Linked DNA regions of Homo sapiens: region 2 is linked to region 1. The links come from fine-mapping of genetic effects on gene expression. Tissue or cell type: whole blood. Region 1 holds a variant in brackets; the other region holds the start of a gene. All regions are shown on one strand. Distances are from middle to middle.

Region 1 (8,107 bases):
ATTGTTTATAAATTAACCAGTCTGTGGTATTCTGTTATAGCACCATAAAATGGACTAAGACAAAAAGCAAAACAAAACAAAAAATAGGACATACTAAGAAACCTAGAAAAAATATTTATTATACAGTGGATATAATAGGCTATGTATTGAGGGTATATTGAGGCATCTTCTCTTTAAAAGATTAATTACAATAACATGGATGGCTAAAAATGCCATTTTTTGTTTTTTTTTTTTGAGACAGAGTCTTACTCTGTTGCCCAGGCTGGAGTGCAGTGGTGCAATCTCGGCTCACTGCAAGCTCCGCCTCCCGGGTTCACACCATTCTCCTGCCTCAGCCTCTCGAGTAGCTGGGACTACAGGCACCCGCCACCACGCCCAGCTAATTTTTTGTATTTTTAGTAGAAATGGGGTTTCACCATATTAGCCAGGATGGTCTCGATCTCCTGACCTCGTGATCCGCCCACCTCGGCCTCCCAAAGTGCTGGGATTACAGGTGTGAGCCACCACGCCTGGCCTAAAAATGCCATTATTAAGTGCCTTCCACAACACAGATTTGGTCCATTGTCCAGTCCTATTCATTATGTGCTTGTGGTACATAATGTTGTCCCTCTCCTCTAAGACCAGTGCCATTCAAGGTTTTTGTGAATGTCTGTGTTTTTGTCTGCACAGCATCCATTTCTCATTTTTCTTGTGACAATACTCAAATTTTTTTAGGGTAAAAAAATTTTACCTTCATTCCCACTCCCTTCCCACTCTCCATCCATGTGTTATGAGTAAGTCACCTCCCCTTATCTCCAAGGGTGGGCATGTGTCCCAGGCCTATTCAGTCAGGGTATCCCACTATTCTAGCCCATGGGTTGGTTCAGTGATGGGTTCATGACTCATTCAATGTCAATGAGACTCAATTATGAAACTTTTGTGAGAACAAATGGAAGAAGGTCTCTTTCTCCTAGATATCAAGTTTGGGCAATCTAAGCCTGACAGTGACAGTGACCACGACATGGGTAGGGTCAGTCTGATGCCAAATTCCAACAGAAAATGGTAGAACTGAGAGAGAGTGGGAGAGAGAGAGAGAGAGAGAGAGGGAGGGACTCTTGACATTTTTGAACTCATTTATCTAATGAGATTGAAGGCCCCTGGTGTTTTCGTTGTTAAAATCAATAAATTCCCTTTTCCCTTAAGCTTGTTTAAGTTGAGGTTTCTGTTACTTGCAGTCAGAAAAGCCCTGACAATAGTTATATGTTTTTAATATAAAACAATATTTTTAAGAAAAAATAATTATCTTTCTGATGGTATAAACATCTTGACAAAGGAATTCTTCCAATGTCTCAGAATTGGATCAAAGGAAATTTCTCCTGAACCCATTAAAGGTCACAATAATGATTCCCATTATTGAATGCTTACCATGCACCAGCCGTGCTCAGTGCTGAAACTTAGAACCTCTCATTCCATCCTCACAATAGTGAATGGATGAGAAAATGAAGGCCAAGAGCCAGAATTTCAACCCAGGTCTGCTTCAGTTTAGTCCACGGCCTCAATTACCTCTCCTCCTGGATATATTATGCTTTATTCTAGAATCTGATATTATAAAAAATTCATATTAGAAACATGCATAGTTAGGTGTCAGTTTAATGGTAACCTTTTTAAAAATTCAGCTGATTCGCTCTAAAACATAAGCAGAAATACTTAAAAGGATTCATGGTCCTAGTGAATATTAATATTAACATCAAATAAGTTCAATCCTTAGCCCTTCCTCTCCTGTTCCTGATCCCGCTGCTGTCTTCCCAACATTGCTGACACAGTCCCCACTCCATCGAGTACTAAGCACCACTCACACAGGGCTGTTGTAGAGCAGGATGTCACAGCACACAGATTTTAGCTACCACAGTTTTTGAATTTCTTCAGCCATTCTTGCCCCTGAAATTCTCTTTGGTTATTTTGCTTTAGGGACATACATACCAGCATCCTGGAAACTTTTTCTCAACTCTTCTTTAAATCCCAGGATTCCTAAGCCTCTCAGCCTGTAAGCAATCCTGAGAAAACCAAAGCTTCCCAATATTTGAATATGCAGTGTAGTTTAGACCGCCTGTCGCAGTCTTTCCCATGAAGAGTAACTCATGGGTTTATCAAAAATTCCATTATATTTTCCTTTTCTTTTTCTTTTTCTTTCTTTTTTTTTTTTTTGAGACAAAGTCCCACTCTGTCATCCAGGCTCGAGTGCAGTGGCGCTATCTTGGCTCACTGCAACCTCTGCCTCCCAGGTTCAAGTGATTCTCCTGCCTCAGCCTCCTGAGTAGCTGTGACTACAGGTGCTCACCACCACACCCAGCTAACTTTTGTATGTTTAGGTAGAGACAGGGTTTCATCGTGTTGGTCAGGCTGGTCTCAAACTCCTGACCTCAAGTGATCCACCCGCCTTGCCCTCCCAAAGTGCTAGGATTACAGGCACAAGCCACTGCGCTCCACAAGCCACTGGCCTCCATGATGTTTTCTTGATAAAGTAATCCTTCTGGTGGGTTTCTAACCTTAGCAATATAGAAATCAAGAAGAAGCTTGAGATGATTTTTTAATATCTTATTTTCTAATTGTACTTGTTTAAGTAATGGTCTGAGAGTTTTCTTCCATTTTTCCCAGTTCCTATTACAATCTAGAACATATAGTAAGAAGTTAATAACGGTCGTTAATGGAGTGTTCACCAAATGACCAACTTCCTTTTTTCTCTGATGCTGTTATATAGACTTAATATCTTCATAAATTTCCCTCTGGGGTATGCAGCTTGGAGGACAGCTACACTGAGTTCAACCTTATAACCTCTGCAATCTTCCAAGAGATTTTTAGGTTAGTGCCCCAAGAATGCTGAAAACTTGAGCAAATCTAGACATGATACATCCACAAAGAGCGAAGAATAAGCCTAACCCCATCTTCATAGGCTGTGGGTTTTCATTCCCACCATGTCTGAACACATAGCTGGGAGATGGGTGATGCCTGGGCACCCATATTTTGTAAGGTTTCCCTTGAAAAGATTCTGATCATCACTAAATTTTCAAACAGCATTTTAGTGGTTCAAATGGT[G/A]ACAAAAAGGTGATACGTACAAGTGCCTTTATTTCTGTGTGGGAAGTGGATGCTCCGTAGTATCTTCTGTCTATTAAAACAAGGCAGTCTGAGGAGAAACCGGAATTCAACTGCTCAGTGCTTTGGGCACTGGAGATAAAAACATTTTTAGATATCATTATTAATAATTCATAAATGAGAGAACTTTACCTGACCAAAGGAATTGATTATTTTTTTATAACTTATCTTTAATTTTGTTCAGCATCTTTATTTTTATGTGTTAATTTTTTTTGAGACAGAGTCTTGCTCTGTCACCCAGGCTGGAGTGCAGTGGCACAATCTCAGCTCACTGCAACCTCCGCCTCCTGGGTTTACGCAATTCTCCTGCCTCAGCTTCTGGAGTAGCTGGGATTACAGGTGCGTGCCACGATGCCCAGGTAACTTTTCTATTTTTTGTTAATAGAGACGGGGTTTCACTATGTTGCCAGGCTGGTCTCTAACTCCTAATGCAGGTGTACCATACATTCACTTGGAATGATTATTTTACACGGTTAATGGCATCCCAATTCTCCGTGATATGAAAACCATTGCTTGTACCCCAGCCCCAAGTCCATGCCCTCCTCACAGGCCTCACCTAAAGGCTTATGATCAATATAGAATAGCTCTTTTCACAAATCATATTACATTGTTAGCTTGGGAGTATGTACATTTACATTTAACATCTTTGTGTTTAATTTAGATTATTTTATCTGATGATAGGGGAATGAAAGAACAAGTTTGGCCTACAGCTTCTCTGTGATGGTGATGGAAATTCAAGATGAACAAAGTGGCTTTCTCTCAGCAGATGTAGCAAGGTCCCTTGCCTCAGAATCTCAAGGAATGACAGATGAAAGTCTTCTCTCCCTTCCTGTGAGCTTTGCAAATCAGAAATGACATTCCTTTCCTGGGGTGTGATGCTTCTGTAAATGTGATTTTACACTTTTTAAAAGCTATGGCTTCTTGGTCTCATAGTATATTGCAGGGAGGTCAGAATCATCTGGGGAAACTTCTTCAAATGCATGTATACACCCACACACCCACCCACACACACACACACACACACACACACATACATACATCCCTCACTCCCTGGGCAGAATGCCAAGTCACACTGCCTAGACATCCTTCAGAAAAATACATCCATCAGAACTCTGATAGAATGCCAGGGGGATCTCTGCTTTGTGTTATAACGGGGTGCTATGCGTGTGGGGAGGGGATTGGTCCCACTACATCTGTAGGAAGATGCTGTATAATGAGGTTTCACTGTGTTTTCCTCATTTCTTCACTCTTCTGGGAGACGATGGCAGAAAAAACTTTATTACTTTCTGTCCAGTTTATTTGACTAGTATCCAAAATCTGTGCTTTATCATTGGTCATGGGAAAGCTGAAGAAAGGAAGAAGAATGTAAAGAGATAGTATGCATGGAGAGGATACTGATAATCTTAGAACCAAGGATTTCTATCATGGCTTTGTTGTTGTTTGTTTGTTTCTTTTTTTGCCAGCATGCCAAAAAGAACCTTCATTTACTTCTATAATCACCTCTTATGCTTTTTTGCCACATGACTTTGGAGCAGGTGCTTTCTGGGCTGCAGCTTTTTGACCCTTCTTGAACTTTCGGAGGAGGTGCTGCCTTCTGGCCTGTGGCTTTCTGGCAGGAAGCTTCTGGGCTGGAGCCTTCTTGTCTGCTTTTGAACCCCGAGAAAGCAAATGCTTTGGGCAAGTAGCTTAACCTCTTTGTGTCCTACTTTTCTTTTCTCTCAATGGGGATAATAATATACAGGTGGTATTACAATGATGCTATTGTACAAAAAAAAAATAGTGCATTAAAAACAAGGTAAAAACCCCAGCTGAGATTTTCTAAGGGCTTACTATGGACCAGGCACAGTTGTAAGCATTTGACACTTTCGAGTTCATTAACTCTCATAACATAAAATGACTGAATATACATAAGGTTCTCACATCAGGGCAGGGCACATGGCAAGCCCTTTTTAATTGTTAGTTGTGATTCTGAAAAACTGCTAAATAATAATCCGTATGATTAAACTTTTTTTTCCATTCTGATGGGCAGTTATCTCCTCATTTTCACTATTATGAATAGCGCTTTAGTGAACATCATTGTATGTATCTCCTTTGTGCATGTTTAAGAATTTCTGGGAGAAGGGAGCAGGGACATGGGAGAGTCTAGAAATAGAATGCTGTCATGCATTTAGCCTGTTTCCTTCATTCTGAAAAAGAAAATTAAGTAGTATATGTTTCCTCACCTCTCAAGAGAGCTTTAAAACATAAACAGATATTAGCCAGGTGTGGCGGCGTGCACTTTAATCCCTGTTACTTGGGAAGCTGAAGTAGGAGAATTGCTTGAATCTGGGAGGCGGAGGTTGCAGTGAGCTGAGATCACACCGCTGCACTCCAGCCTGGGTGACAGAGCGAAACTCTGTCTCAAGAAAAAATTAAAATTAAAATAAATAAATAAAAGATCACTTTTTTCTTTAAACATTGATTTGTAGATAGTATTTGAATTACAATGTGCTACACTAAACAGAGTGTACCAGTAGGATGGCTAATGGTGATTTACCTTTAAATTGTCAATTTGAATTAGAGGATAAATTTAATTGAAAAAAATTAGCATGTAGACAACATTAATTTGGGAAGGTGTGATTATCAGTTTCTCTGCCTCTGTTTTTTGTTGTTTTTTTTTTTGTTGTTATATTGTTGTTTTTGTTTTTGGCTGTTTGTTTCTGCAGATTGACATTAATTGCTGGCCTTGTGACCAGATACCGTTTTCCAGTTTTCAAGAGAAAGGGTGATACTTCAGGTGTTGTGACACATCTTAACGAGCTTTGCCAACTACTCTCCTACCACTCTTGTTCTGTATTTGAAGAACAAAGAGTGCAGATTTGAACAGGGCAGGTCCCAGCTCACCTGAATACCAGTGAGAATTAAATCTCAGCCCGTGTCTCTGATTGCCCAGTGCCTCTCAATTTGCTGTGATTGTGTGAAACAGATTGCCCAAGGAGCTGGCCCTGGTCACAACATGCCTCACAAACTGAAACAGTGACAGCAGGGGTGATTGATAGAAGTCCTTCTATGAGTAGCAGGTGCTACCCAGGTGAACCAAACTGTGGCCATTATTGTTTTGGGTCAGAATGCACTTAGTGTCAGAAACAAGAGCAGCCTTCTGAACTGTTCTGTGCTTCCTCTAAAGTAAGCATGCAGTAGTTTATAATATTTTTGTTTGCATTTCCCTGCCACTGGTGAAGTGAAGAATCTCTTCATACTGTTCTTTTGTATTTCTTCTTTATTGTGTGTTCTTGCTCTTTGCCCATATATATGTTTTTATAAATTAATGGTTTTTTTATAATAATTACTCAAATCAAATGTCATTTTCTTACTTTCCTATTTTAATTTCTTACTTTATTTCATTTTTTCATGGACACCTCTAATATATGACTTTATTTCTTTAATTGCACTTACTATTATTTTATTTTATTTTTAATTTTTAATACAAAGTTGAGACGGGGGTCTCATTATATTGCCCAGGCTGACCTCGAACTCCTGGGCTCAAGTGACCTCCCACCATGGCCTCCCAAAGTGCTGGCATTGTAGGCATGCCCCACTGCACCCAGCCTATGATTTTAAATTATCTTGTTATTTATTTCTTACCGTATTTGTTGCTACTAATTTGTTTATTCACTTCTTTATTAGCAAGGATCTTGCCAGTTTTGTTTGCCATTGTATTTGTAACAGCCTGGTTTATAGAAGACACAAAGTATTTGACAAATTAATAAATAAATTGCATTGTTGCTTTGATACCTATAAAATACAGTAGATACCTGAGATACATGATACACAACCAAGTATCTAGGGGATTGTGTAGGCACCAACCCCCTACACAATCAAAAGTTCAAATATAACTTTTAAGCCGGGTGCAGTGGCTCACACCTCTAATCCCAGCACTTTGGGAGGCCAAGATGGGCAGATCACTTGAGGCCAGGAGTTCCAGACCAGCTTGGCCAATGTGGTGAAACCCCATCTCAACTAAAAAAATAAAAACAAAAATAAAAAATTAGCCAGGCATGGTGGCACACACCTGTAACCAGCTACTTGGGAGGCTGAGGTGGGAGAATCACTTGAACCCAAGAGGCAGAAGTTGCAGTGAGCCAAGATCAAGCCACTGCACTACAGCCTGAGCAACAGAGCGAGACTCTGTCTCAAAAAAAAAAAAAAAAAAAGGGAAAAAGGCAAACATACCTTTAAACTCCCCCAAAACTTAACTACTGATAGCCTACTGTTGACCAGAAGCCTTACCAATAACACACACAGTTAACATATATTTTGTAGGTTATATGGATTATGTACTGTTATCTTACAATAAAGTAAGCTAGAGAAAATGTTATTAAGAAAATCATAAGGAAGAGAAAATACATTTACTATTCATTAAATGGAAGTGAATCATCATAAAGTTCTTCATCTTTGTTGTCTTCACCTTGAGTAGGCTGAGGAGGAAGAAAAAGGGTTGGTCTAGCTGTCTCAGGGATGGCAGTGGGGAAGAAAATCTGCATCTAAGTGGAACTGTGCAACTCAAACCAGTGTTGTTCAAGGGTCAACTGTATACCAGTATCTTGACACTAACAGATGGTGGATTATTGTGTGTTCTCCTCTAAATTAAACTTGAATGAAATCTGTTGCAAGCCCAGGTTTCAGTAGTTGAAGGAACCAAGGGAATTCTCTGGTGACAGTTAGCAAAAATGTTTAGCTGAGTTGTAGGAGTTTCAAGGCAGTAAGGTAGGAAGGTTTCCTGTTTCAACCAGATCAGCTCCTCGCTCATCAGCATTCCTTTTTTTCTTTTTTTGAGATGGAGTCTCTCTGTTGCCCAGGCTGGAGTGCAATGGCATGATCTTGGCTCACTGCAAACTCTACCTCGTGGGTTCAAGCAATTCTCCTGCCTCAGCCTCCCCAGTAGCTAGGATTACAGGCGCACTAGCTAGGATTACAGGTGCACGCCACCACATCCAGC
Region 2 (8,107 bases), 60 kb after region 1:
GGGGTAGTTCCTTAAACCTTTAAATAAAACAAAAATAAAAACAAAACTTCAGTAAGAGGTTAAAAATGGTTACCTTTTATTGAGCGGTCACTATATATGTCAGGCATTATGTTAAGCAACTTAAATGTGTTATTTAAAGTTTCACAGCTGAGCCAGGCACAGTGGCTTACACCTGTAATCCTAGCACTTTGGGAGGCCGAGGCGGGTGGATTGTCTGAGCTCAAGAGTTTGAGACCAGCCTGGGCATTGTGCAACCCCATCTCTACTAAAATACAAAAAAATTAGTGGGATGTGGTGGCGCGCACCTGCAGTCTCAGCTACTTGGGAGGCTGAGGCACAAGAATTGTTTGAACATGGGAGGCAGAGGTTGCAGTAAGCCGAGATTGCGCCACTGCACCTCAGCCTGGGTGACAGAGTGAGACTCTGTCTCCAAAAGTTTCACAGCTGGGCAAGGTGGCTCATGCCTGTAATCCCAACACTTTGGGAGGCTGAAGTGGGAGGATCTCTTGAGTCCAGGAGTTCAAGACCAGCCTGGGTAATATACCAAGATCCCTCTTGACTTAAAAAAAAAAAAATTTTTTTAAGTTTCACAACAGCCCTATGAAAAATGCATGCTTATTTTCCCCATTTTACAGATGTGGAAAATGAAACCTGGGATGGCTAACTGACTTATCCAAAGTTACACAGCTATTAAGTGGTAGAAAAATGGGGACAAAATAGGCTGTTTGACTCCAAAGCCACCCCTCTAAGCCTCCAGGCTACAATGCTATAAAAGTCTACCAAATGAAAATCATGGGAGATAGAGAAAAAAGGACCTTTAATTTTAGTATATATGCTTCCAAAGAGAGCATGAGAAAAGGAACTGCAACAGAAAATTTCGCATGGCCCAAGATCAGTGACCAGGGTCACCATTTATTGCAATTAAGTTAGATGAGTTAACTACATTGTGTGATTTGGGGGTATAAGAGGGGCCAATGTAAAAAGCTCAAAGGTGGCCGGATGCAGAGGCTCACACCTGTAACCCCGGCACTTTGGGAGGCTGAGGCAGGCGGATCATTTGAGGTCAGGAGCTCGAGACCAGACTGACCAGCATGGTGAAACCCCATCTCTACTAAAAACACAAAAAAACTAGCTGGGCGTGGTTGCGCCTGCCTGTAGTCACAGCTAATCGGGAGGCTGAGGCAGGACAATTGCTTGAAACCGGGAGGCAGAAGTTGCAGTGAGCCGAGATCGCGCCACTGCACTCCAGCCTGGGCAACAGAGTGAGACTCCGTCGAAAAAAAAAAAAAAAAAAAGCTCAAAGGTATCTTCAGGTCAGTCACCTCCTACCCCTTTTCTCATTTTATTTTCTTTATAGCATTCACTTATCAATTATTTATTATTGATAAGTGAAATTGTTTTATTACTAATATTTTATTAGTAAAATTATTTTATCTCTAATCATTTGCCTCACCTCACTAGACCATAACTTCAATAAAATCAAGAACCGTGTCTTTCTTACTAAATGCTGTATTTCCAGAGTCCGAAGTTGTGCCTGACATAAATATTTGTTGAATGAATGCATAAATGTCTGCCCTTCCCTGAACTTTAATGGCAAAGACTTAGATTTACAAACTGGTTCAAAAGACTATATTACAAAGGCATGCATTATTAGAAATATTTTATTGTTTAGTTTCTTAGATTGGCTAGGATACACTGAAAAAAGAAGAGGAAGCTGGAGAAAAGGGGGAAAGAGCATATGTACTGGTAATGATAACACCTAAGTTATAGGGGTTGGTGGGGGGGTGGTGAAACCTAAAAAATCCAGAGCCTTCATGAGCGAAGTGCCGAAAATTGATGAGGCTCTCTGGTGTGGGATAAAAACCACCACAAAAGCTAACTTCTCAATTTTGTCTCAGAAATTCTGCTACCATAAAGATTTATGGAAAGAAAGTGAAAGTTATTTAGTTCATTTTAATATGCTAATTACCTTGCATCGTGCACAGCTTTGATTAAAATGCAACATTCCTGAAGTTCTTATTGAAATTAATGTGTCAAATTTATGTTCAAACTGAGCACTGGTCTACCTTGTTTATGTATAGTGGGTTCTTCCTGAAGATCCATTATTGATGCTATTATGCTCCTTGTATCATTACATCATTGTTGAGAAGGGTGTACAGGAATAGGCTATGAGAACAACAAAGGAATTGTATATGAAAAACTAAAATGAATGAATAAACAGAGTCGTCTGCAGTATAGAGTGGGAAGGCAAATAATTTCAATGAGGTTCTGGAGGGCCAAGGAAAACATTGTATCCCCTAAAACGGAAGATAAAGTTGCTAAATGTGTGGATTACAATAGGGGATTCTAGGCAGTTTGAAGTTTCAATAAATGCAAGATTTAGAGAAGAGGTTCTCAAACTTTGTGGTCTTAGGATTCCTTTACACTCCTTTAAAAGTTGAGGACCCCAAAGAACTTTTATGTGCATTACTGATACTGATATTTATATCAGAAATTAAAAGTGAGAAATTTTAAGAGTATTTCATTTAAAAACAATAAAGCAATCAAATATTAACAAAAAATAATTTTTATATGAAAAATAACTACTCCCCCTTGCCCCCAAATCGAGTTTTTGCAAATCTCTTTAACGTCTGGTTTAACCGCAGATGACTGGATTCTCCTATCTGCTTCTATTTTCAGTCTGTTTCCTTATCACATGTCACGTAGCCTCCGGAAAACCCCACTGTACACTTGTGAGAGAATGAGAATGCAAAAGGCAGTCTTGACATTAATATGGAAATAGTTTTGACCTTCCCCATGAAAGGGTCTGGGGACCCTCAGACCATACTCTGAGAACAACTTTTTGAGTTAGTATTAGTCAATTCATCATCACTTGAAAATTAGCTATGAGGTTTTACAAGCCTGAGGATTTAATGTGATTTACTTTTTCAGAAAGATGAAACAACGGACGTACTGAGTGTCCTCATTATAACGCATCCAGAGAATGCACAAATATGCCATTTTCATCCGTCAAAAGAACTGAAGCCGAACTGACGGACTGTACATCAGTTACGAGGATGTGGCGGGGGGTTGGGGGGCAAAGGATGACGAGCACCCCCTAAAGGCGCGGAGACCCGCTGGCATAGGAGAAGCAAAACTGTCAGAAGAGGCCGCCGAAGTGGTCTAGAGGAAAAAACTGTTTTTCTTAGGCGGGGAAGGAAAACGGTTACCGGGGGCCGGCGAGTTGCAGGAATTAGGCCTTGACAGGGAGCGTCCGCCGTCTAGGCTGCGGCGAGCGAGGGACCAGGCGACTGGCGCCAGCCCTGAGCGTTCCCAGCACAACGCCGAAGGGGGCGGGGCGGGCCGGGCGCCGGGCACGCGGGCCAGGCCTTCCCCACAACTGATGGGGTTGAAATTTCCTTTCCGGCTCAGCAGGGAGAAAAGATATGGTGGGGTGCTTAACAGAGGAGGTTAGACACCGGCGGGAACCAGAGGAGCCCAAGCGCGGCGCCTGGGCCTCGGGGCTGCAGGAGTCCTCGGTGGGGGTATGGAGGTCGCCGGGGAAGGAGGACGGTTCAGTTGCTAGGCAACCCGGCCTGGACCCGCCTCTCGCTCGCGTTGCTGGGAGACTACAAGGCCGGGAGGAGGGCGGCGAAAGGGCCCTACGTGCTGACGCTAATTGTATATGAGCGCGAGCGGCGGGCTCTTGGGTCTTTTTTAGCGCCATCTGCTCGCGGCGCCGCCTCCTGCTCCTCCCGCTGCTGCTGCCGCTGCCGCCCTGAGTCACTGCCTGCGCAGCTCCGGCCGCCTGGCTCCCCATACTAGTCGCCGGTAACGGATGGGGGCCTGGAAGGGAAGGGGGAACGTGGTGTTGGCTGGGCGGCCTGCGCAGATGGGAGGGCCGGAGGGATGGAGGGACTGGGAGCCGGGAGTCGGGGCCGCTGGCCGCCCGTGGCCTCCGGGGTCGTCCTGTGAGGTCGGACAGGACCGCGGAGTCCGGACCCCGGAGCCTGAGAGGGGCCCCGGGGCCGACCAGCGCTTTTATCGGGGACGGCTGAGGCGACGTAGGGGTTGGCGCGGCCTGGAGGCCTAAGGTTCTCTGAGCTCCACCGTCTTTTCCGCGTGGACCGGAGCGAGGCCGCGGTGACGCCCGGGTGCCCTGAGACTCGGCTGCGCCGCGAGGACCGGGAGGCCCCCGGCGTACGGGCCGGGCCGAGTGCAGAGCCGGCCGCCTCTTGGACACCCCCCTGCTTTTCCCTCAAAAATAATACCAGGAGGGAGGCCGCTGGGAGATGAAAAGAACGGCGGAGGCTGCGAATTCCGACGGGAGGGAGGGGCTGTGGAGGGACGAGTCCCCGAGGCGGGGAGGGGGCGGGGGAGGCTGCGACGCTCCCGGGCTCTCCGCCCATTGGGGGCGGCCGCGCGGGGAGGGGAAACCCCCGGCGGCTTCGCTCCACACGTGGTAATGGGCTTCATGGCCACTGGCTGGGCCTGGTTGGAGACCCTTGCCCTCGGTCTGTGCTTACTTTGAAAGTTGTAGAGACGGTGGAATGTGAAAAGGAAGGGTAAGCGAGTAAGCCCTGTCCCTGGGTTTCAAACTCTTCCCTGCTTCTCTTTGGTCTTAATCTTTTTATTGGTACCAGAGATTGTGGATGTTAGCTGATGATAAGGAAGGGCCTCCACTGCTAGTATTTTAAAAAGTTAACGCGTATATAGCGCTTATATTAACTGTTATTAGCAAAAGGTTGTTATTGTGTTTCCCAGGTACTGTTAGATGGGTGTCTTGATCAGGGTTTTTTATTTGGGGAGTATTGATCCTGATCGATCTAAACCCCTAAACCAAGCTTGTCCAACCCGCGGCCCAGGACGGCTTTAAATGTGGCCCAACACAAATTCATGAGGTTTTTTTTTTTTTTTTTTTTTTGGAAAAAAAAGCTCATCAGCTAGTTAATGTATTTTACGTGTGGCCCAAGACAGTTCTAGTGTGGCCCAGGGAAGCCAAAAGATCGGACCACCCCTGCAAACGGTTCTTAGATGAAAATAAAATGTTTGGCCCTTTATGACTTTAATTGTTCTTGGCTGTCTTATAAATTAGTTCCTTTATTGAAGTCACTAGAATAAGATACTTAACGGTTTCCTTTTTAAGATGGGAGGTGGGATGGAATGAGGTGTTAGTATAAACTTTGCCAAGTTTGTAGCCTGCAACCTTGTCAATGAACCCTACTGCCCTAAAGATCTGGGGGATGGCAGTGTAGGGGGGCTGGGACTGAGGTCCCATCTGGGAAGGCTAGACTTTGAGAGTGCAAAAAGGATGAACCAGGCGCAGGATGTCCTCAAGGAGCCCGTATTTTAGACGGTCACTGATCAGTTTTGAAACAACTACATTTTAAAAATCTCACTGCTACATTTGAAGATATCCCACTGCTGCATTTTAAAATTTACACTGCTTGCCTGGTTTCACAAGAGCTGTAAAATGAAATTTGGCCTTTTGAAAATAGGTGGATTCAAAACATCTTTGGAAACGAGTATCTGGGTCCTCTTTTTTTGGTCAGCTTAAATTAATACTCCTATACTTTGGAAGTAATATACATTACCTTTGATTGAATAAGGGAAAAACCTTTTATGTATAGGGTACCATTTAAAAATCGAAGGGAAGTAAATGACTTTTACAGTTATTTTCAAGGCACTCTTGTGTTTCAAGCTTGTTTGAAGTTGCCCAAGTTTAAATAAATGGCCTAAATCTATAGTTTAGTTCTAAGAATACTGTCCTTTGGAGAATGTATGGAACTAAACCCTGGTAGGTGGACTTGGACATCTTCTGTCATAAAACCTGACTTTCATAGATTCTCCAAGTCAACATTATGTTAGTAAATAGAAATTTAAAAGTTTTCACTATACCAATTTGAATATCTTTCTAAATTTTATCTGCTACAAAGTGCCTATTTTTATATTAGGCCCATTGATTTGCAGAATTATAAAGCTAATACTGAATATGGTAAATTACTGCACTTGGCCTTTAATGAGATTTTTGAAACGAATACCTGTACCATAACTAATGTAATCCAAAATGCCATCTCATTTTATTCAGCTTGCTCCTGTTGGCTCCTGGTAAAACTGAGTTGATTCTAAATTCTCAAAATATATTCAAAACTAAGGGTCTTTTTGTAGAAGGGGCTAAAGAAGCAGTATCTGTTGGACTTCAAAGGTCTGAAGATGTCAAAATACAATATTTTATTCACTTCTTGGTTGTAAATTTGAAACAAAGGATTAGAGAGAATGACTCATCAATATCAAAATATTAATGATCAGTGTATTCAGATCTTCAAGTTTAATCAAACCTGTAATTGTGTTCTCAGTTTAGTCTTTGGGTAACTATCTAGCACCTGTATGGACATGTATCTTATGTCATGAGCAAAAGAGGCAAATTGGTTGCTTAGATGTAGAATGTTAAATTGTGATGAGAGCTATAAAGGAAGGAAAGGGTAAAGGGGTCAAAGAGTAATACAGCGTTTACACAAAGGAACCTGTTATAATTTGATGATTTTAAGTTCCATTTCAAACTAGTTTCATCTAAATAAGTTTTTGGGCAGAATAGGGGTTAGAAGGAGAGAGTTGTTACTTTACACCTATCCATATGTAAGTCGTTTAGCACAATGACTACAGAACATTAGAGTACATTAGTGGGCTTGCCATAGAAAATGGCTTCTATACCTTTGGTTACCAACTCTGCCTTTTACTTCCTGCATATTTGTATATATTTTTACTTATTCAGAAGTTTTGTACATTTTAATTTTTATTGGGAAACAGGGTTATATATATTTTTTCCTTGTGGAGACAGGCTCTTGCTGTGTTGCCCTGGCTGGTCTTAAATGCCTCACCTCAAGCGATTTTGCCTTGGCCTCCCAAAGTGCTGAGTGTATGGGTGTGAGCCACCACACCTGTCTAGAGTTATAATTTCAGTCTTGGAATTATTTTCTAAAGAGGGTACAGAAGAGCATAACAGGGATAAATAATGTAATAGGCAACACTGATTGATTATTCAGGCATTGTTTTAAATTCTGTGTGTATTATTAGCTCATTTAATTTACTTAGAGACAGGTAGCATCAACATTTTAACAAGGAAAAAAAATAGGTGTGGAGTGGTTAGATAACCCGTCCGTGGTTACGTACGTGAGCAGTGATAACTTATGATGAGATAATTTTTATCCTGGTTTTGAAAGAATGTTGACTTACACTGTTCTGCTATAAATCAGCATGAATATTAGTTCATTTTCTGTTGCTTAGAATACCTGAAACTGAGTAATTTATTTAAAAAAAAAGAATTTATTTCTTGCAGTTATAGAGGCTGAGAAATCCAAGATCGAGGGGACCCATGTGGTGAGAACCTTACTTGTGGAGACTCTGAAGGTTCCCAAGGCAGTACAGGGTATCACATGGGGAGGGGGCTGAGTGTGCTAACTGGGTAGCTTGGCTCTCCAGCTCCCCTGGTGGGAAACTGGGTAATTTATAAAGAAATACATTAATCCATGAATGGATTAATTCGTTTGTGAGGGTGGAGCCCTCATGATCCAATCACTTCTTAAAGACCCCCATCTCTCAGTGCTGCCACATAGGGGATTAAATTTCAACTTGAGTTTTAGAGGGGACAAATACTCAAACCATAGCAGCATGAAATTCAAAAGCACTCCACCTTGTATCCCACTGTGCTCTAGGGAAAAGCTGTATAGCAGTTATGGTCATGAAGTCTTCTTCCAGCATAGAATTTGTTTACATACACAGTCATGCATGGTTAATGATGGGGATGTGTTCTGGGGGAAATGCATCATTAAGCCATTTCATCCTTTTGTGAATGTCATAGAATGTATTTACACAAACCTAGATGGTACGGCCTAGTACATACCTGGGTTATATGGTATAGCCTGTTTGTTGTTCCTAGGCTACAAACCTGTATAGCATGTTGCTATGTTGAATACTGTAGGCAGTTTTAACTTTTTTAAAAATAAGTTGGAGTGTACTCTAACCACAAAAAGCATAGTATAGTAAATACATAAACCAATAAATCATTTATTGTCCTTATCAAGTATTATGTACTGTAAATAATTGTAAGTGCCATACTTTTATATGACTC

Evidence for each region. PIP is the estimated chance that this variant, and not a neighbour inherited with it, causes the effect.
Region 2: NAP1L1 starts here. The variant in region 1 is fine-mapped to the expression of NAP1L1 in whole blood (TOPMed, PIP 0.95).

Annotation. Positions count from the first base shown.
Region 1 is chr12:76,140,425-76,148,531 of GRCh38, reverse strand. No RefSeq gene overlaps it. Among named protein-coding and RNA genes, the nearest start is that of NAP1L1, 60 kb to the right of the region's middle. The variant G/A (reference allele first, on the strand shown) is at 3,073.
Region 2 is chr12:76,080,270-76,088,376 of GRCh38, reverse strand. NAP1L1 (nucleosome assembly protein 1 like 1) reads left to right here and starts at 3,692. Exons shown (of 15, transcript NM_004537.7): 1 at 3,692-3,810. LOC124902970 (a long non-coding RNA gene) reads right to left here and starts at 3,292. Exons shown (of 2, transcript XR_007063379.1): 1 at 3,210-3,292; 2 at 1,644-2,166. RefSeq lists silencers at 3,258-3,417, 3,858-3,937, 4,078-4,127, 4,198-4,257, 4,308-4,377 and an enhancer at 3,421-3,962.